Linked DNA regions of Homo sapiens. The protein of the gene in region 1 purifies or fractionates together with the protein of each later gene. This does not show direct contact. Each region holds a gene or a part of one and is shown in the gene's direction. Other genes may lie near its edges.

Region 1 (5,867 bases):
TTCTCTCGTGGACCGCCTCCCCATTCCCACAGGGCCCTCCTAAAGGGCCTTTGGATGACCACATTGGCCTTTCTTTCCTAGGGTGGGGAATTAGAGATGCTAAGACTGGCCAGTCTCTTTTTCTTAAGAGTTTAGGGATTCGTCTTAAAATATTATTCAGATAAACGTATGAGTCATGTGTTAACTGCAAAACTACTTAACAGCACACTTGTTAGAATATCAGTCGGCACTCTGATTCCATTTCGGCATTGTTTTTCCTTTGGTTCTATTAAGATCCCGGTTCTAACTGGGTCCTGGTAGTAACAGGCTGTAAGTGGCCAGGTGTATAGCATTATTTCTTAGTAGTGTGGTGTGGTGCTGGTGGTTTATTTTCCCTATGCACACATGCCCTAATATGGAAGGATAGTTTGTACACACGTAGGGTACGTTATCATGAGACTCCTTTACAGAGTATGAAACTGAGGATTAGAGAAGTCAGACGAGTTTCCCGAAGTCTTATAGAAGGCTAATGGAAAAAACCAGAGCCAAGGGCAAACATGTTTCATCTGTCCTTCCACATTAGTTTAAATGTGAATGGCTGCTTGGAACACAGTGTTGAGAAGGATTCCGAGGCTGTGTCCAGGTTCAGTGGGGAAAAAGTGCCTTGATTTGACCATTATATCGTGTACTCAGGGCCTAGTTTATTTCCCACAAGCAGCTATTTAAAACATGTCTCATCCAAGGCAGGGTCGGGGTGGGGAACCTCAGAGGATCAATGATGCAGCCTGTATTGTCACCAGGGCTCATCCCAAAGCAAATCCTGCTGAAGTTCTCCTCTGAACAACCCTTATCACTCATGCTAATATGTTGGATCCTGCAAGTCACAAATACGAAGGTATGAGCATTGGCCGAATCCCAACAGGGAAACTTCACCGGGAAGGTGAAGACCCCTTTCCATTAAGATAACAAACAGAACCTAGAAGGCCCGTAGCATGGTGGCTTAGAACATGTGGGCCTTGGATGGGATCCTGCCAAGGGGTGTGTGACCTCTCCGAAGCCTCCAGGGATGATACTACTCCCTGGGGTGCTTATGCCAACCACGTTAGAGACAATGGTTTCTGTACCCATTGCCTGGGGCTGCCATAATAAAGTGCCACACACTGAGTGGCTTAAAACAACAGAAACCTATTGTCTCACACTTCCGGGGGCCAGAAGTTTGAAACCCAGGTGTGTTAGGATCCTGCTCCCTCTGAAGGCTCCAGGGAAGAGTGTCCTCTGCTCCCTCCGAAGGCTCCAGGGAAGGGTCTGTCCTCTTAGGCTTCTGGTGGCTTGCAGGTGCAGCCCTCCAATCCTCCTCCCCAAGCGGCCTTCTGCCTATAAGGACACGAGTCATACTGGATGAGGGGCCCACTAATTGATGGCTTCTGTAAAGTCCCCATCTCCAAATAAGGTCACATTGTGAGGTACTGGGAGTTAGGACTCCAACATAGCTTCTCTGGTGGACACAATTCAACTCCTAATAACGTCCACACAACCCCAAGCAGGGCCTGGCACCCTGTGTGCTCTCTGGAGAGCGGCTGAGTCAGGCTCTGGCAGTGTCTAGGCCATCGGTGACTGCAGCCCCTGGACGGCATCGCCCACCACAGGCCCTGGAGGCTGCCCCCACGGCCCCCTGACAGGGTCTCTGCTGGTCTGGGGGTCCCTGACTAGGGGAGCGGCACCAGGAGGGGAGAGACTCGCGCTCCGGGCTCAGCGTAGCCGCCCCGAGCAGGACCGGGATTCTCACTAAGCGGGCGCCGTCCTACGACCCCCGCGCGCTTTCAGGACCACTCGGGCACGTGGCAGGTCGCTTGCACGCCCGCGGACTATCCCTGTGACAGGAAAAGGTACGGGCCATTTGGCAAACTAAGGCACAGAGCCTCAGGCGGAAGCTGGGAAGGCGCCGCCCGGCTTGTACCGGCCGAAGGGCCATCCGGGTCAGGCGCACAGGGCAGCGGCGCTGCCGGAGGACCAGGGCCGGCGTGCCGGCGTCCAGCGAGGATGCGCAGACTGCCTCAGGCCCGGCGCCGCCGCACAGGGCATGCGCCGACCCGGTCGGGCGGGAACACCCCGCCCCTCCCGGGCTCCGCCCCAGCTCCGCCCCCGCGCGCCCCGGCCCCGCCCCCGCGCGCTCTCTTGCTTTTCTCAGGTCCTCGGCTCCGCCCCGCTCTAGACCCCGCCCCACGCCGCCATCCCCGTGCCCCTCGGCCCCGCCCCCGCGCCCCGGATATGCTGGGACAGCCCGCGCCCCTAGAACGCTTTGCGTCCCGACGCCCGCAGGTCCTCGCGGTGCGCACCGTTTGCGACTTGGTGAGTGTCTGGGTCGCCTCGCTCCCGGAAGAGTGCGGAGCTCTCCCTCGGGACGGTGGCAGCCTCGAGTGGTCCTGCAGGCGCCCTCACTTCGCCGTCGGGTGTGGGGCCGCCCTGACCCCCACCCATCCCGGGCGAGCTCCAGGTGCGCCCCAAGTGCCTCCCAGGTGTTGCCCAGCCTTTCCCCGGGCCTGGGGTTCCTGGACTAGGCTGCGCTGCAGTGACTGTGGACTGGCGTGTGGCGGGGGTCGTGGCAGCCCCTGCCTTACCTCTAGGTGCCAGCCCCAGGCCCGGGCCCCGGGTTCTTCCTACCCTTCCATGCTGCCAGCTTTCCCTCCGCCAGCTGCTCCAGGAAGCTTCCAGAAGCCCCTGCGCGGGCCTTGGCTTGCAGCAACCCTTTAGCATACTTAGGCAGAGTCCCATATTTCCTTCCTGCTGGAGGCCAAGTTCTAGGGGCCTTCTGGTTACTATGGCTGGTGTTTGTGTACATCATACCCTAACTGTATTCATCAACACTTAGAGTAAGCAAGGCTCGCTGGAGAGCCACACACACTGGGCACCGTAATGTCGGTTATAACACCGCAGAGGAGTTCTGAACTATGTATTTCGCACTCCTGGGTTCATCATCTCCTGAAATCTCAGGGTGGTGTTTGCTCTCAGTTGCTTCAGCTGAGTAGCTGGCTTTCTGTCCTGGAAAGCAGACTTTGTACATGTGTGTGCAACCTATGCCTGCTGAGATCATCATCAGACAGGGAAGCGGCTTGGTCCAGAGAGCTGTTCTCAGTAGAATGTTAAGCACAGAGAGCTGAGAATTAGACTGGTTATTTACATAGACATCCAAATAGAAACCTATAGAGTATCTGTTAAGTCAGGCTCTCCCGTCATCTCCCCCATCCCTGGGCAGGTGTCTAGGAGATGGTTTTGTTATTTTCAGGGCCCTCTCAATGGCTAAAACACTCTGGGAGATGAACAAGATTTTAAAAACCCAAAGCTTAGCGCACCTGGTGGGTGGGGGTGTGAAAACTTTGAAGGAAACCGCGTCAAGAGCCTGGCTGATTGTTAATATCACGTTAACTCAGAGGGCCAGGATACTTGCCCAGACCCGGAGTCTGCCTGCAAGTAGCAGAGGAGAGCTGGCCTTGCTCTGCCGCGTGTCTTTCTTCCTGGGCCCTCTGTCTCGGGTTGGAATTTGAATAGTGGAGTAGTGTCTGCCACAGTCAGGGGCCTGGATGAAGTAGACCACCAGTACGGAGCTATACTCAGGTACTTTTCAATGTATATATCTTCATTAAAAAAAAAAAATCTGGGCCAGGCACAGTGGGTCACGCCTGTAATCTCAGCACTTTGGGAGGCCGAGGTGGGTGGATCACCTGAAGTCAGGAGTTTGAGACCAGCCTGGCCAACATGGTGAAACCCAGTTTCTACTAAAAACACAAAAATTATCCAGGCGTGGTGGTGCATGCTGGTAATCCCAGTTACTTGGGAGACTGAGGCAGGAGAATTGCTTGAACCTGGGAGGCGGAGGTTGCAGTGAGCCGAGATTGCGCCATTGCACTCCAACCTGGGCGACGAGAGTGAAACTGTCCTGAAGGGGAAACAAAAAAATCTGTATCAAAATAAGGATTTAACTAATAGTATTAGGCACTACTTTAAAAAGGCTTTGCTGTTAGTAAGGTTGAAAGAAATAGAGCCCTAGGTATACATTGGGTAGCACCTTGTTCAGCTGCTCAGATTCTTGAACCTTGTTGAGGTCTTACTTTGATATCACCTGGGCCTTACTTTTCGTTGTTTGGGTTTCCTCCCCAGGTGTCTCAATCAGGGCCTCCTCTGTCCTTTTGCAGGGAAGAAGGGGGTAGGAAGGGCCTGAAAAAGAACTTGCCTTCCCCATTGCCCCCTCAGAGTTTGTTCCTCTCCAGTCCTCTTCCCACCCTTTCTTAGGACACCAAAACCCTGACTCTTTCAGTATTTTATAATAAAATAAAGTTACTAAATTGTCTGTTCTGTTTTGCAGAGGACACACATTTAGGAGCCAGTGATTCAGACCTTCCATTTTTCTTTTTGGTGCTAATGCTCTTTTCAGTATATTCTCTTTGATAGAAAAAAAATGGAGGCAAAACTGAATTTTCTGCATTATCTTTTCCTTTAGCATTATTCTTGTTTCTGCACTTCATTCTGACCCCCTTCCCCAGCATAAAGTTCCATGTCCAGATCCACTTGCCCTGAGATTTTTGACTTCCGTTTGGGACTCTAGTCCCTCCAGGGGACACATTGAGCCTCCCAGACCCTGCAGGGCCCTGTGCTCATTCGGCTCTTGGGCTGTTGCTACGGTCCTTCCTGACCCTCTGTTTCCTGGGACAAGTAGTTTTTAATGCAGCTACTTTCTGAAAGAGCTGGGGTCTTACCGCAGAATATTATTTTATTATTTTTAGAGACAAGGTCTTGGTCTTTCGCCCAGGCTGGAGTGCAGTGGTGAGATCATAGCTCCCTGCAGCCTCAAGCTCCTGGGCTCAAGCGAACCTCCTGCTTTGACCTCCCAAGTACCAGGGACTACAGGTGTGCGCCACCATACCTGGCTAATTGTTGTTGTTGTTGTTTTTAGAGGCCAGGGTCTCCGTATGTTGCCTAGGGTGGTCTCGAACTCCTGGACTCAAGTGATCTTCCCTCCTAGGCCTCCCAAAGTGCTGGAATTATAGGCATGAGCCACCATGCCTGGCCTCGCAGGATATTATTTAAACGAAACCTGAAGGATTTAAAATCAGAGAAGACACATAAACCATCACCTGACTGTGGGGTGAGAGTGGTCTTTATATAGACACTCATGATGCACAAGCCAGCCCTTCGCCCCACTCTTGTTTTGAAGTGAAAGGATTTATATGGGAGGGAGGAGGTTTGAGCTGTGCAGGAGGGTCCTTGGTTGGCATGAGGATTTTGTGAACCTACGCTGTTAGCTCTGCAGGCCTGTCTTGGACATAGGTAAGTAGAAGTTGGAGACCTTGTGTTGTGGACCAAATGTTGCAAGATGTGTGTTCTGTGGCTTTTCATTAACTGCTGCATATCTGCTGGTTGGTGGACATAGTCTAGTTTTCTTTTGACTTAAAAAAATTAACAGTACAGCTTATATCGGAGGGCTGCATAGTTTGGGGGAAACTAATGAATATAGTATGGAATGTAATGAATGACTGACTTCTTCATAGAGCTATTGAAGTGATTTATGAAGAGGAAGAAATCATTTTTGTGACTTTGTTGATCTTTGAAGTATTAGAGTGGCTTTGGCAGGTGTGGATCACCCGGAAAGGAATCAAACACTGAGTCCTGCCAAGGTGCTCGGTCCCGGCAGCAAAGCCAGTCCTCAGCAGCCTGCGCTCCCGAAGCTCCTCCAGCTAAGTAACTGAATAGGCCGCCCTGGGAGCTGCCCATGCGGATGCTCTGAATGGTGAAACTTGGTTTTGACACCACAAGTTGTTTTCAGTTAAATCAGTGGCTCAGCAGCAGAGCAGGGTTCTCCAAGGAGGCCTCGTGTCCCCTTCACCCCACCTGGA
Region 2 (4,477 bases), on another chromosome or scaffold:
GGTATTGATCATGATCTCACATTATATACTTAGAAGAAGTTTGTGCTTGTCTTGAATTTGCATTATTGACATCTTCACATCCAGGTGAGAATTGGCACAGAAGCTCTAGATGCACAGCACCGAGATTCTTTCAGTGACTGTTAATATTTAGCAATTTGAGGGCTTCCAAGGGCTAGTAGTTTCAATAAGAGCACTTTTTTTTTTTTTTGCAATTAGTTTATTTGTATCTTATATTGCAGACAGATTCCACCAACGGGGAGAATCCAAGCATCAAGAAATCCCTCTTTCCTCTTTTTAATTCAAAGAATCATTTAAAGCATAGTTCTTCTTTGAAAAAGCTTCCTGTAGTCACTCCACCCATGGTACCCGTTTTTATGTATGGTAGCCCTGAAAACTGCTCCAGTAAACTTGTTTTACTGATGACAACAGCATGTCTTATTTTCATGAGGTCATATTCTCTTTATGCTAGTTAAGTACGTGAGCCAGTTCCATAAATTCACTGGGATATAAATTCATTGCCATTCTTCTGAATCAGTTAAGAAAGTTGAAGCACAAAGTCTATTAAGCAAACAAACTAGTGAAAGGCTAGTTTGTCATGTCTGATTAGCCAGTTATGGGCAGATAACATTTATAAAAGCCTGTATTTTATGTAAGGAATTCTGTTAACATTTACAGTTAACAAATATCTTTGCATTTGACTCACAGAGTTTGTTAACACTTGATTGGCAATTTGTCTTTTTGAAGCCAAGTTGAATTGACCAAATTGAATGAGCTAACAGGCTCCATGAAAAAACAGCTTGTTTCCTTGTCTGGCTTGAGCTTTTGCTGGTCAGTTTAAAACCAGGGCTTTTGCTTGGCATTTGACATTACTCTTCTGTGTTCACCAAAACTGGTGAATAGAGCAATTGCATTCATCTGGAATTTGTGGCACAGATTTCCAGCATTTCTCTAGTACATAATGATAGATCCAGATATATCAGACAGTGGTTTGGGAATATGATCCAAACCATACTTTCTCACTTTGCTATCCTTGAAAGCCTACCAGACTTCTTTGGCACTACCATATACAGTGTTTGGATCATTTTCCCAGCAGGAAAAAATTTCTGTTTTATTGAACTGGTTCACAACCTAACTGCAATATGGAATGAGGATACGACAGCAATTCCTGGTACAGCCCTATTTAACTGCTCTCTCTTACAGCGACTAAAACTAACAGCATGGGAATGCTTTAAGGGTTGAGGTTTAACAAAGCTGCATGACATCTGCCAATTTTTCCTAATGCAGGGAAAATTATTAAGAGGGCAGAAGAATTTAACTAGCATCACTTGCATTGTGAACATTGGGAGAGATTGGGGTTCTATTTTTACTGGGTTATTTGAGTTTTGGTTTGGTTTGCTTTTTAGTTTGGTTCTCCTCTTGGGTGTGGTTGCATATCTTAATTAGGCTTCTCAGTGTGCTTATTGAATGCTTGTCCATATTTTGCTCTAGGTACCCAATTCCGACAGCCCTGATCTTCTGACGTTGCAGAAATCCATTCATTCTGCTAGCACTCCAAGCAGCAGACCAAAGGAGTGGCGCCCCGAGAAGATCTCAGATCTGCAGACCCAAGTGAGTGGATCCTGCACCACTGCTAGACTCTCCAACTCTCCAGTAACTGTCCTGAGGAGCGGGGAGGGCATGCTAGAGAAAACTTAGCCTCTCAATGTTACAGTAAGGCTGAGCACCTCCTCAAAATAGACCCTCAGTTATAGCCAGATGCATCTCGTGAGCCAGGATGAATCTTGCTTCAGTGACCCATGTTCTACTGGGAAAGATGCAAGCTTCTGTTAGCCTTCACCTAGCTGGAGGCAACTGAAGATGTAGTCCCAGCCCATAAATACAGCCCAGGAAAGAGCTGAGCTGTGTTAAAGAACCATAATTCATGGTAAAAAATGAGGCATGCCATAACATTTCAGGCAGGATGAACACAGATGGTGGGAAGATTAAGGTTTCATTAAAAATAATAGCATACAAATTGAAAGACAGGTATGATAAGTTTTCTTGAAAGAATATTTCAACTCCTGAAATCCATACTGTTTTTGACAGGAAACAGGCAAACAGTTGCATTAGGAACTACATATTAGACTGTATTATATAGTCACATTTATCTTCCGTAATGGAGGAATAAGCAGAAACTGAATCAGTAAATTTTTCAGGTATCTGAGGTTTATCTCCTTTAAACAACTATTTTGGTTGGAAATTTTGTAATGTATCTTTTCAGTATCCCATAATGAGCATTTTGTTTTTTGATATTGAGTATTTTATAAATCCTTTATTCTTCTGCACTATAATTTCTGACAATCCTCCCGAGCTTTTGAGGCTATAGGATTACTTGTGTCTGTGATTTCTTGTGTCACAGATTTCTGTGATTGGGAGAGCGGACTACTGTTTTTTTTTTTTTTTTTGAGACAGGGCCTCAATCCCATTGCCCAGGCTAGGGTGCAATGGCACAAACTCGGTTCACTGCATCCTTAACCTCCCTGTGCTCAGGCAATCCTCCCACCTCAGCCTCCCAAGTAGCTGTGACTATAGGTGTGCACCACCACACCTGGCTAATTTTTCGAATTTTTGGTAGAGACGGGGTTTTGCCATGTTGCCCAGGCTGGTCTCGAACTCCTGGGCTCAAGCAAGCCACCTGCCTCTGCCTCCCAAAGTGCTGGGATTACAGGGATGAGCCACCATGCCCAGCCTCTGTTTACTCTTTTTAACTGTAAGCTGTTGCATAGAACTGCTGGCAGAAGTTCCCCATATTCCCATTCTATTTGCCCCAGCCATTTATATTTTCTGCTTCTAACATAATATAAGCTGGGGATGGTGGAAGCATAGAGAACCAGATATCCAAGTTTATTGGATATGTATGCAAACTAAAGAGACAAGCCTCTGAGTGAGGGCCTGCTTCTCTATTCCCAATTTCAAAACAAAACAAAAAGAATAGAGAGCTTTAGAACTTTCTTTGTGAAACCATTTCTTTTACCAAGAAGCCCTCTCTCTCTCTCTCTCTCTCTCTCTCTCTCTCTCTCTCTCTCTCTCTCTCTCTCTCTCTCTCCCCCCTCTCTCCCCCCCCCTCCCCCCCCTTCTCTCTTTCTTTCTGGCAGGGTCTTACTCAATCACTCAGGCTGGAGTGCAGTGGCAAGATTATGGCTCACTGCAGCCTTGACCTCCTGGGCTCAAGCCATTCTCCCATCTCAGCCTCCAGAGTAACTGGAACTACAGGCACACGCCACCATACATGGCCAGTTTTTTAATTTTTTTATAGAGACGGGGTCTCGCCTTGTTGCCCAGGCTAGAAGCTCTTTTCAAATAACTTTATAGCTCTTGCTGAATGCAGCTTATTGTAATTGCTTGATAGTTACATGTGGTCAAGGCTATAAAAATCACCAGGAGTCTCATCGTGTTATACCAATTTAATTATTTTTAAAAAGCCACTTTTGAGCACTTAGAGTGTACAGTGTGCTCTGCTACTTCCTGTAGGGAGCACAAAGCTTTCTTGGGAAGACTTTGAAATGATGATGGAGAATACTTTCCCCTGAAACAATATCTACTTGAGTCAGTTCTGAAGCCATTTACCTTGGGTTTCAGTGCCTAGTTCCTTCAAATCTTGTAATGTTCCTTGAGTTCGTCAACATTTTATTCAAACTTTACTGAGCCCTTAAATGCATGTCCCTTATACCATGACATTTACAGCAAAGGTACTCTGAGAATTGGCCCCAGAGGGGTCCCAAGGCTAGGGTTGTAGCCCAAGTGGCCAAATCCAGCAGTCATGATTGGCTGTGAATTTCCAAGTGCTTTCCATGTCTCTTCCGAGATCGAGGAAGAGGAGATTGAGCCATCTTTCATCGTTCAGGAGCATGAGGCTCAGGAATTGTCCAGTGAGCAGACGGCTCTGAGGCTCCTCCCCTCTGCCCTGAAGTCAGTCTCCCTCCTTGATGCAGCACCTGGGGATGTCTAGCTGCACAGTAGACAGACAGGCAGGGCGGACCACTGTGAGCCCATGTTAGGAATTGAAGGCCTCCTGTGAATTAATTCTTTAGATAGTTCTGATGGGGTTTTGCATATTTCTTTGTGCTTTGCATTTTCAATGCCCAAATGTTACCCTCCCCCTTTCAAAAAAAAAGCAAAAAAAAAAAAAAAAAAGTGCAGCAAGGGAACATTTGAATTTTGCAATATCGAGAGAGGGAAATTGGGGAGATAAGAACGAAAAGGGCTATACGACTTGTAGTTGAGTACATTGCTAACTAAAACATTCCATATTTTCAGCTTCTCTTGCTGCTAGATATGGCTGTGTACCTAAGTTCTAGCTGGTAAAATATAAGTGGAAGCATTTTGTGGAGCCTTTGGGAAGTCTTCTCAAAACAGAGAAACATACACCTTTTGCTTTCTCCTTCCTGCTGGTTGAAGCATGAGATCCCCTGATTAGAGATAGGATGCAACCAGGTAG
Region 3 (4,477 bases), on another chromosome or scaffold:
GTCCCTCTCTGGGCCCCTTTGCCGTAGGTCCCTGGTGGGGCCAGACTTGCTACTTTCTAGGAGCCCTTTGGGAATCTCTGAATGACAGTGGCTGAGAGAAGAATTCAGCTGCTCTGGGCAGTGGTGCTGGTGACAGTGGCTGAGGCTCAGGTCACACAGGCTGGGCAGTGGTCAGAGGGAGAGAAGCCAAGGAGGGTTCCCTTGAGGGAGGAGGAGCTGGGGCTTTGGGAGGAGCCCAGGTGACCCCAGCCAGGCTCAAGGCTTCCAGGGCTGGCCTGCCCAGAAGCATGACATGGTCTCTCTCCCTGCAGAACTGTGCCTGGCCCAGTGGGCAGCAGGAGCTCCTGACTTGGGACCATGGTGATTCTTCAGCAGGTCAGTGTTCCCACCTCTTTGGGTGGCCTGTCCTCCCCAGGCCATATCCCCTCATCCATATGCTTACCCGTGGGACACCCTCCCCAGGGTGTTCTCTTGGAAAATTCCTGCCTAGGCTTCCAAACCCAGCCCTCCAGGCTGAGGCCTAGTCTGAAACCTGTTCCCTCTGCTGTGCCAGCTGGGGTTTCCTTCTCTCACTGGCTCACCCCACTGGGCAGAAATGAGTTTATTTACACACATCTCTGGATCCCAGGCAGTGGAACAGCATGTGCAAAGGCCCAGGTGTGGGAAGGTCCCTGGGGAAGAGGAGAGGAGGTTGGCAAGGCTCCCAAAGCCAGGCCAGGAAGGGCCCTGAGCCCAACTTATTCTTAGGGCCTTGGGGAGCAGTGACTGGAGGGCGGGGGGTGACAAGGCTTGAGCTGGAGCCCCCTGGGATTTTATGGGAAGAAGCAGAGGTGCTGGCCCGAGCTGAGTCCTCCAGCCCCCCTTCCTACTGAGGGCCACAGTGGCCTCTGACCCTCAGCCCTTCCCCGTGATCAGTCTGAGGCTCTAATGAGCTCCTGGCCTCCAGAGCAGGAGCCAGGAATGTGGGCCCTGAGCCAGGTGGGCCTGGCAGCAGGCCGTAGGGCTTGTGGGGCTGTGCATTATGGGGGCTTGGCCAGCAGCTTCTCGGTCTCCAGGGTCACCAGAGGCCAATGGCTCAGCCTTGCCTGGCCACCCTGAGGCTGCACGGACCAGCATGTTTGCATATGAGTGCGTGCGCGTGTGTGTGTCTGTGTGTGTGAGTGAGAGGCAGGCTTCAGGGCAGCATCAGGACAGACATTCTTCTATCCCAGGGGCTGGAGGAGACCCCCTTTAGAGCCCCTTGGCCTGAGAGCCTGTTCAAACGCCCATTAGAGATGGGCAGGATCTAGGAGAGGAAAAGTCCATTCGCTGAGTGTTTGCTGTGTGCCAGGGCCTGGGCCCCCATAGCCCTCCAGGGGCGTCCTCCCTCAGGGGGCCTCTGAGGCAGGCCTCTGGCTGATGGGACCTCCTCACCACCCCCTCCTCTCCTGCCCCTCTGAACGCTGACCCACCTCCAGCTGTGGGTGGCCTCTGTTGGGAGCAAGTGTCTTGTAGGTGAATGCCTGTTCTGCCTGCCCTCAAGCAGGAAGTACACTCAGCTCCTTCCTTGGTCCTGAAGAAAGCCCCAGCCCTGGGGAACCGGCCAGCTCTGCAGTTGCACAGGCCGGGCCTAATGGGCTCCAGCCCAGGCTTTGCTATTGATGAGTGGGAGGGCCTTGGGCACGTTACTCAGCCTTCCTGAGCCTCAGTTTCCTCATATGTAAAATGAAGATTAAAAGCCTCTTTTCCCACAGCTGCCGATGAGAGGCTAAAATGCCATGTGGAGCTCCATGAAAATGCTTCTTCCTTCCTCTGCTTCCCTGGTCTGCCCTCTCCTCCTCTCTTCCTGCCACATCCTTCCCGGTCCTGAAAGGTCCACGGAGTGCTTGGCTTCCCCTCTTGCCTGGCTGACTTCTGCTCAGGCTTCAGTGTAGCCTCTACTTCCTTCGGGAGGCTTCCCTGCTCTGCAAACCCCAGGGCCTGGTCCACAGTCCTCCTCCTTTCTCTGCCTACCTGGGGCTTCCTGATGAGCCCTGGACATGAGGGACAGCCTTCATCCCATTTCCCGTGGATCTTTCAGGATAGGGAAGGAACTGGCAGGAAGAGAGGAGGAGAGAGGCAGTCCAGGGAAGCAGATGAAGGAAGAAGCATTTTCATGGAGTCCCAAATGGCATTTTAGCTTCACAATGGCAGCTGTGGGAAAACAGGGGTTTTGTTTGTTTGTTTGTTTGTTTGTGTGTGTGTTTGTTTTGAGACAGAGTCTTGCTTTGTCACCAGGCTGAAGTGCTATGGCATGATTTTGGCTCACTGCAACCTTCGACTCCCTGGTTCAAGCAATTCTCCTGCCTCAGCCTCCTGAGTAGCTGGGATTACAGGCACCCGTCACCACGTCCAACTAATTTTTGTATTTTTAATAAAGACGGGGTTTCACCATGTTGGCCAGGATGGTCTTGATCTCCTGACCTCGTGATCCGCCCACCTCGGCCTCCCAAAGTACTGGGATTACAGGCGTGAGCCACCGCACCAGGTGGATAGAGGTTTTTAATCTGCATTTTGCATATGATGAAACAGGCTCAGGAAGGCTGAGTAATGTGCCCAAGGCCCTCTTACTCAACAGCAAAGCACAAGATGGAGCCCACTGGGCCCGGCCTGTGGAACTGCAGAGCGGGTCGGCTCCCGGGGCTCGGGTTCTTTTTAGGACCAAGGAAGCAGCTGAAGCATACTTCCTGCTTGAAGGCAGGAGGAGCAGGCATTCACCTACTATTCCCTGCCCTGGAGGAGTTCCCAGACCTATGTGGGGAGACAGCTTAGAAACCTAGGAAAGGCACTGTGACAGTGAGTCTCCAGGGGGCACGGGGATGAGAGGGCACCTGGGAATGGGAGAGCCTTCTGCCCTCCCTGGGAGAGGGTGGACAGGGAAGGCCATGAGACAGCTGCAGCAGCCTCTCATGAACATACAGGGACTGAGGTCTCTGGAAGAAGGACTAGCCCAGCTGACTAGTGGCGCACCTGTGTGGCACACCTGACTCACATCTTTAAGGACCACAAGGAGGGCTTTTGTGCTTCAGTATGTCATGATTCCCAGCTTCATGGTGGTGCCAGGGTAGGGACTCTGTGTACTTGGCCCAGATTTGTGGGCAGAGGGAGGTTTGAAGATAAATTTGTGGGCTGTTGATAACAGTTGGATTGATGCTTTTAGTAAAATATAATGTCCTTCTTTGTTTCTTGTAATGATTTTGACTTAACATCTATGTCTGATAGTGTAGTCATCTCAACTGTCTTTTGGTTACTATTTGCATGGAATACTATTTGCATGAAATCCTTCTACTTTTAACCTATTTGTGTCTTTGGATCTAAAGTGGATCTCTTGTAAGCAGCATATAGTTAGATCATGTGGTTGGTTTTTGTTTTGTTTTGTTTTTATCCATTCTGCCAGTCTTTACCTTTTGGTTGGAGAGTTTAATCTATTTACACATGAAGTAATTACTGTTAAGGAAGGACCTCTGCCATTTTGCTATGTTTTCTGTATGTCTTATATCTTTTCCTCCTCAATTCCTCATTACTGCTCTTTTGTGTTTAATTGACATTTTTTTCTAAAGTACTGTTTTGATTCTCATTTACTCTTCTGTGTATTTTAAAAGTTTTTTCCTCAATGATTATTCTTAGGTTTACAAATAACATCTTTTTTTTGAGATGGAGTTTCACTCTTGTAGCCCATGCTGGAGTGCAATGACACAATCTCGGCCCACTGCAACCTCTGCCTCCTGGGTTCAAGCAATTCTCCTGCCTCAGCCTCCCAAGTAGCTGGGATTACAAGCGTGCACCACCATACCTGGCTAATTTTTTTTATTTTTAGTAGAGACAGGGTTTCACCATGCTGGTCAGGCTGGTCTCAAACTCCTGACCTAAAGTGATCTGCCTGCCTCAGCCTCCCAAACTGCTGGGATTACAGGTGTTAGCCACTGCATCTGGCCTACAAATAACATCTTAAATCTGCATCAATATAGTTTAAGGCCAAATTAGCTTCAATAATAAATAAAAATTATGTTCCTTTATAGTTCTATCTCTCCCCCTTTATGTTATTTATTGTCCAAATTGCATCTTTATACATTGTGTGCCAGTTAACATAGATTTATCATTATGTTATACATTTGTCTTTTAAATCACACAGAAAAGAAAGTAGTTACAGACCAAAAATACAACATTTTTTTTTTTAAAGAGATGGAGTCTTACTGTGTTGCCCAAGCTGGTGTGCAGATGCTATTCACAAGTGCAATTGTGGTATACTACAGCTTTGAACTCCTGGGCTCAAGCAGCCCTCCTGCCTCAGCCTCCTAAGTGGCTGGGAGTACAGGCGCCTATCACTGTGCCTGGTTAAATATGACTTTTCTATTTATCTATGTAAGTGCCCTTACCAGTGTTCTTTAATTTTTTTGTATGGCTTTGCATCACTGTCTACTGTACTCTATTTTTTTTTCCAATTTTGTATTTTTTAAAA
Region 4 (5,024 bases), on another chromosome or scaffold:
AGTTACATTGGGAAGTACAGATTTGTAAATTTGGACATGTTTCAGAGTGAAAGGGGATGCTGTTAAGAATTACTAAGGGACAACAGGTGAAATCAGGACACATGGTCACTATACTAGGGAAAATGTCTGGGATAAGGAAAAAGAGGAAATAGCCACCCTTTACAGCTTCTTCTGTGCCCCCACTCACTTCCACACTCCTTCCCCCTTATTGCAGAGTGACAGTCTAATGAAAGGGGAAGACTATTATATTGCATCAAGAATCAGGGCCAATCATATTTTGGAGAAAGCTTTGTACTGAAGTAAGTGTTTTTATTGTCTCAAATTACCATAGTGGGTTAATTTTGTCAGACACATGTGCCTGAAAGTGAAAAAGCCCCACAACAATCAAATTGAAAAAAAAAGGAGAGTCGTCCTAGTTTTTTTAATTGGTCACTATCATTTTATTAAACTTGTGGACAAATGTAAACCTAAAAGAGCCAGTCTTTCCAGATGGATCCCAGTGACTGAGCCTAAATCTAAACTAGAGCCAAGCAAGCTGCCACGTGCAGACTAGAGCTCACACATGTACTAGGAATTCCCCAAAAGCCCATACCTCTATCTAACTCTGCAACTTTCAGAGGTCACCTGAACCAACCAGCCAGAGCTCACCTGCCCCTGCCAATCAGGGCTCAGTCGTGTTGACCAATCAGAGATCAACTGAGTCAACCAATCAGAACTAATTTTGAATCCTTTATTTGCATGAATGGACTGTACTGAGAACCTCGATGGGAACTTTCTCTATAAAAGCCATATCCTCTTTTAGTTCTCTGGAACTTCGCCTTTGTTTTACACTGAAGTCTGCCCCTCCCTGGTGTGCAAGCTGTTCACAGGAATAGTCTCTTTCCTCCAAATTCCTTTTCAGAGAACTTGCCTTCATAATATGATGCCAGAGGTAGGAGACATGCTTACTCACAGCTTTGGATTCAAATCTTTAATTCACCACAATTACAATAAAACGAAAAATCAAACAAAGAAATAAAAAGTGGACAAAAACCTCAAACTAATTTTCTCCTCAATTTACAAGGCTGAACAGCTAGGAGGGCATTTATTGGTTCAGGACTGGTCACCTGCTCACATTCTGAGCCAGTGGCTCAGGCCCAGGGCTGAAGACACTTCATTAGTTGAGCCAGTGGAGAGTGGGGTTTGGGTGCTCTCATTGGATACTTCCATCGTAAGTGATGCATACTCACAGGACATTAAGCTTTGCATTAAAAAAGATTGTAGACTGGGAAACAATAGAATTAGACAAATGTGAATGAGTTAGAGTCCTTACTTTATTTTCTCGGAAGCTTGAAAGGGGTGCTGTTCATTGAATTTTTGATTTAGCTATTTCTGCACTGTGGGTTTTTGTTATGTATTTAAATGAATTGTATAATAGAGGTAATGTTGAAAAAAGATTATATGAGGTCTGCTTGTTCCATTAGTAATGTTTGCCCCGTTTGATGCTTCTAAATTGTTATTTACAGCAGTAAACTGTTTCCCTTTGTGTGTGTGTGTGTGTGTGTGTGTGTGTGTGTAATGTGATTTAATTTATAATATTTCAGGTATGAGTTTTGTAACCAAGTTTATAAATGTTCTCAGATTTTTGTAGTGTGCATCCTTCAATGGGTATCAACATCATGTTTTATTTTCTTGAAATAAGTTTTCTCTGCCAGGCACAATAGCTCATGCCTGTAATCCCAGCAGCTTGGGAGGCCAAGGCAGGAGAATCACTGGAGTCCAGGAGTTGGGACCAGCCTGAGGAAACATAAAGAAACCATGTTTCTCACACACACACACATACACACACACAAAATACAAAACTTAGCCAGGTGTGGTGGTACGCGCCTCTACTCCCAGCTACTTGGGAGGCTGAAGAGGGAGCATCACTTGAAACCAGGAGGCAGGGGTTGCAGTGAGCTGAGACCGCACCACTGCACTGCAGGTGTGCCACAGAGCAAGACTCTGTGTACCTTTGTCTGAGGTAGGCAACCCGGCCACTTAGGCGGGCAGACGCCCTCTGTGATTGGCTGACATGATTCCAAGCAACAGGATCATCCGATCACCTTCAATGGAGGGAAGATTGCTGAGAGGCGCCCTTGGTGACACTTCATCCAATCAGATGTCGAGTTGGAATGTGACGTAGAGCCATGCGACCATACCAAAGTGCCCCCCACTTCCCTGGTCCCCAACCGTCACTCTCTGTTCTTGCTATCTAATGGCCGCTGCTTCCGCCATGGCTGAGGCTTCCTCTGAGACAACCTCGGAGGAAGGCCAGAGCATCCAGGAGCCCAAAGAGGCCAACTCCACGAAGGCCCAGAAGCAGAAGAGGCGAGGGTGCCGAGGCTCCCGCAGGCGCCACGCCAACCGCCGTGGGGACAGCTTCGGGGACAGCTTCACCCCCTATTTCCCCCGGGTGCTGAAGCAGGTTCACCAGGGCCTCAGCCTTTCCCAGGAGGCCGTGAGTGTCATGGATTCTATGATCCATGACATATTGGACCGCATCGCCACCGAGGCTGGTCAGCTGGCCCATTACACCAAGCGCGTGACCATCACCTCCCGGGACATCCAGATGGCCGTGCGACTGCTGCTGCCGGGGAAGATGGGCAAGCTCGCCGAGGCCCAGGGCACGAATGCCGCCCTCAGGTACACCAAAAGCAAGTGAGCTGTCTCAGGAGCGCCTGAGCACCTGGGAAACCCAAAGGCTCTATTCAGAACCACCGCCCGTGGCCCTATAGGCCAGTGGCCCGCCAAGGGGGGGACCCCACCGGAGGTTGGTGTGGGTGGCACCGTTCCAGCTTGGGGGGCATGTGCCGTGTGGCCTCCTGCGGTTTTTCAAGCATTTTTCCCACAGTGCAAAACACTGTCAACTCCAATATATCTGTAGTGCAATATGCTCCAAGGAAAAGTAGGGGGTGTTTCCGTAATCGTGTTTCGTGTCCTCAGTTTCCCAAATGGCCGTTTTTCTTAGTTATCTTTCTAGGTTATCTTTATGATGATGTTATCAATGTACTGATGTTTACCTTTTTCACTCTCATTCTCCTACGACTGGATGGTGGGATTTTCCAGAACTTCATTATGTGCGATATGGCAACAGAGAAAGTGAATATGCTGATACAAGAAGCAAGGTAACCCTCCTAAATGTGTTCAGCATCTCTCTCATCATGAATCCATGTAAATAAGCAAACGAGGCCCAGTTACAGTATATATATGGCTAAATAAAATTTTCAAGAATCCATTCGTTTTCCAGCTTCCCCGACTCTGAGACCACTATTGTAATTCATTCTCTTTTTGTACTGACAGTAATTTTTTCATTTCTTTTTGAACAGAAACCTTCCTTACTTCCAGGTGTGTGTCAGTAGGATTACGGAGTGTCCACGGAAACAGCTCATGCCCTAGTGTACAGTGGTACAGCCAATGAGTGACCTGCAGTCTATGAGCAACAGTCATTGACCCAATGTGGGGGGAGTGACCCAAGCTGAACCCACAGCAGCCTTCCTGTTATATTCAACCTGGTGTTTAAAGGAACGGCAGTGTGATTCTTTACCTGATGTTTTTGTTTGCATTGCTTGTAATCATGATCTTTTAGGGATATGAATCCAAAGCTAAGATTAGAATATGTACCTTGTCCCTAACATCAAGTTATACAGAACATTGGCAACCATTAGTAGAAGTCAGATAAGGCTTATTTCCTCAAAAGATTAGCATATTTATATTCATGTTAATATTAATATAGGCTACCTTTCATTGTGCTCTCTTCTGGGTCCCAAGTCTTGGCATTTTAAGCATTTTTTTCTATAAGTGTATTGCTGAATTTCAGAGCAGGTGCTCACTTTCCCATTGCTTTCCTTTTCCATTGATTTCCAGTCGCCCGAGTATGTGGACAAGAGAACATACTCTGGGACTGCAACCCACAGGAATTTATTATGTTGTGCCTTGAAGCTCAACATGTGGCCATTTTTGTTAAATGTTTCCCGTAAATTTTGAAACATCTCATAAACAACCCTTCTCCTTCATATGTAGAAACCAGTAAAGGATGGCACTCTCAGTCAAACCATGAAACAAAAGCTGGATAAATGACAAAAATCAAAATTTTCTTGAGCCCATCAGAAGTGGGAAAGAACCACCCCAGAGGGCCCAACACATAGCCACATAGATTATTCCACCATTTAAAGAGGACCCCTTGGTCAAGAGGGAAACAGGGTCAGGGCAAGATGGTAGCCAGAGCTTCCCTGAGTAGTGCAGATGGGAAGAGGGGAAGGTCACCTCCAGAGCTCCACTTGGGATCCATAGAGAAATGATATAGAACCAAGAAGTCCACTCATTGGGATCTGTTACTTTCTGTTTTTCCAGATTATTAGAAAAATATTACAGAAATAGCTGAAGAGAAATGTTATGAAAATAGTTGAAGTTGTGCTTATTGCACGAGGAGACCAAGAAAAACCCCACAAAATCAGCTGCAAGTAAATCCTTCTGGATGGTGCCACCAAATGTTCCTACAAGTCCGGAACAACCCTTGCCAAACCAAAGACCCTTGCCAGAACCCTGCTTCTTCCCAGAGACAGAGCTGTGTACCTGACAAAACACCACATCTCACTCAGTGACTTATTTCTCATTATGCTAATTGTTTTGCTGTAAAATGCCAATGTTTCTGTGAATTAAGACATACGAATAAATTTCTGAAGTTACCCTTGCATATGTGTGTAATTAGACAAGTCCTTTTGAGAAACCAAATCCACTGAGATATTTTACCTTGGAATATGTGTTTTCCCTTTGTAAATTCAGAAATCAAAGAGGGCCATTAGTAAAACAGGGTTAACAATGAAATCTGATTTGGTTGTGGGGAGTGAAGAGTGAGGGGGCAAGGGGACTGATGCCGGTGAATTACAGGAAGAAAGAGGAAAGGGGTGGATTGATGTGAAGATCGGAGGAGGAAGCTCACACATTTGATATGGTATTTCTTTGGGTCATTGAGCAGAAGCGGAACCTATTAGGCAATCATGATG

What was found.
Region 2: the proteins of MGMT (region 1) and CDKL5 purify together in Homo sapiens (affinity purification with mass spectrometry, with the first as the bait; one study listed by BioGRID). This does not show direct contact.
Region 3: the proteins of MGMT (region 1) and MYO7A purify together in Homo sapiens (affinity purification with mass spectrometry, with the first as the bait; one study listed by BioGRID). This does not show direct contact.
Region 4: the proteins of MGMT (region 1) and H2BW2 purify together in Homo sapiens (affinity purification with mass spectrometry, with the first as the bait; one study listed by BioGRID). This does not show direct contact.

Annotation. Positions count from the first base shown.
Region 1 is NC_000010.11:129,464,969-129,470,835, forward strand, and holds the start of MGMT (methylated-DNA--protein-cysteine methyltransferase), read left to right. Parts: upstream 1-2,272; 5' UTR 2,273-2,328; intron 2,329-5,867. UniProt on the Homo sapiens protein: Involved in the cellular defense against the biological effects of O6-methylguanine (O6-MeG) and O4-methylthymine (O4-MeT) in DNA. Repairs the methylated nucleobase in DNA by stoichiometrically transferring the methyl group to a cysteine residue in the enzyme.
Region 2 is NC_000023.11:18,623,640-18,628,116, forward strand, and holds part of CDKL5 (cyclin-dependent kinase-like 5), read left to right. Parts: intron 1-1,488; coding exon 1,489-1,608; intron 1,609-4,477. UniProt on the Homo sapiens protein: Mediates phosphorylation of MECP2. May regulate ciliogenesis.
Region 3 is NC_000011.10:77,130,278-77,134,754, forward strand, and holds part of MYO7A (unconventional myosin-VIIa), read left to right. Parts: intron 1-311; 5' UTR 312-357; coding exon 358-375; intron 376-4,477. UniProt on the Homo sapiens protein: Myosins are actin-based motor molecules with ATPase activity. Unconventional myosins serve in intracellular movements. Their highly divergent tails bind to membranous compartments, which are then moved relative to actin filaments.
Region 4 is NC_000023.11:104,037,741-104,042,764, forward strand, and holds H2BW2 (histone H2B type F-M), read left to right. Parts: upstream 1-2,215; 5' UTR 2,216-2,236; coding exon of another isoform or gene 2,237-2,254; coding exon 2,255-2,664; intron 2,665-3,087; coding exon 3,088-3,124; 3' UTR 3,125-3,146; intron 3,147-3,347; 3' UTR 3,348-3,366; exon of another isoform or gene 3,367-4,371; 3' UTR 4,372-4,714; downstream 4,715-5,024. UniProt on the Homo sapiens protein: Core component of nucleosome. Nucleosomes wrap and compact DNA into chromatin, limiting DNA accessibility to the cellular machineries which require DNA as a template.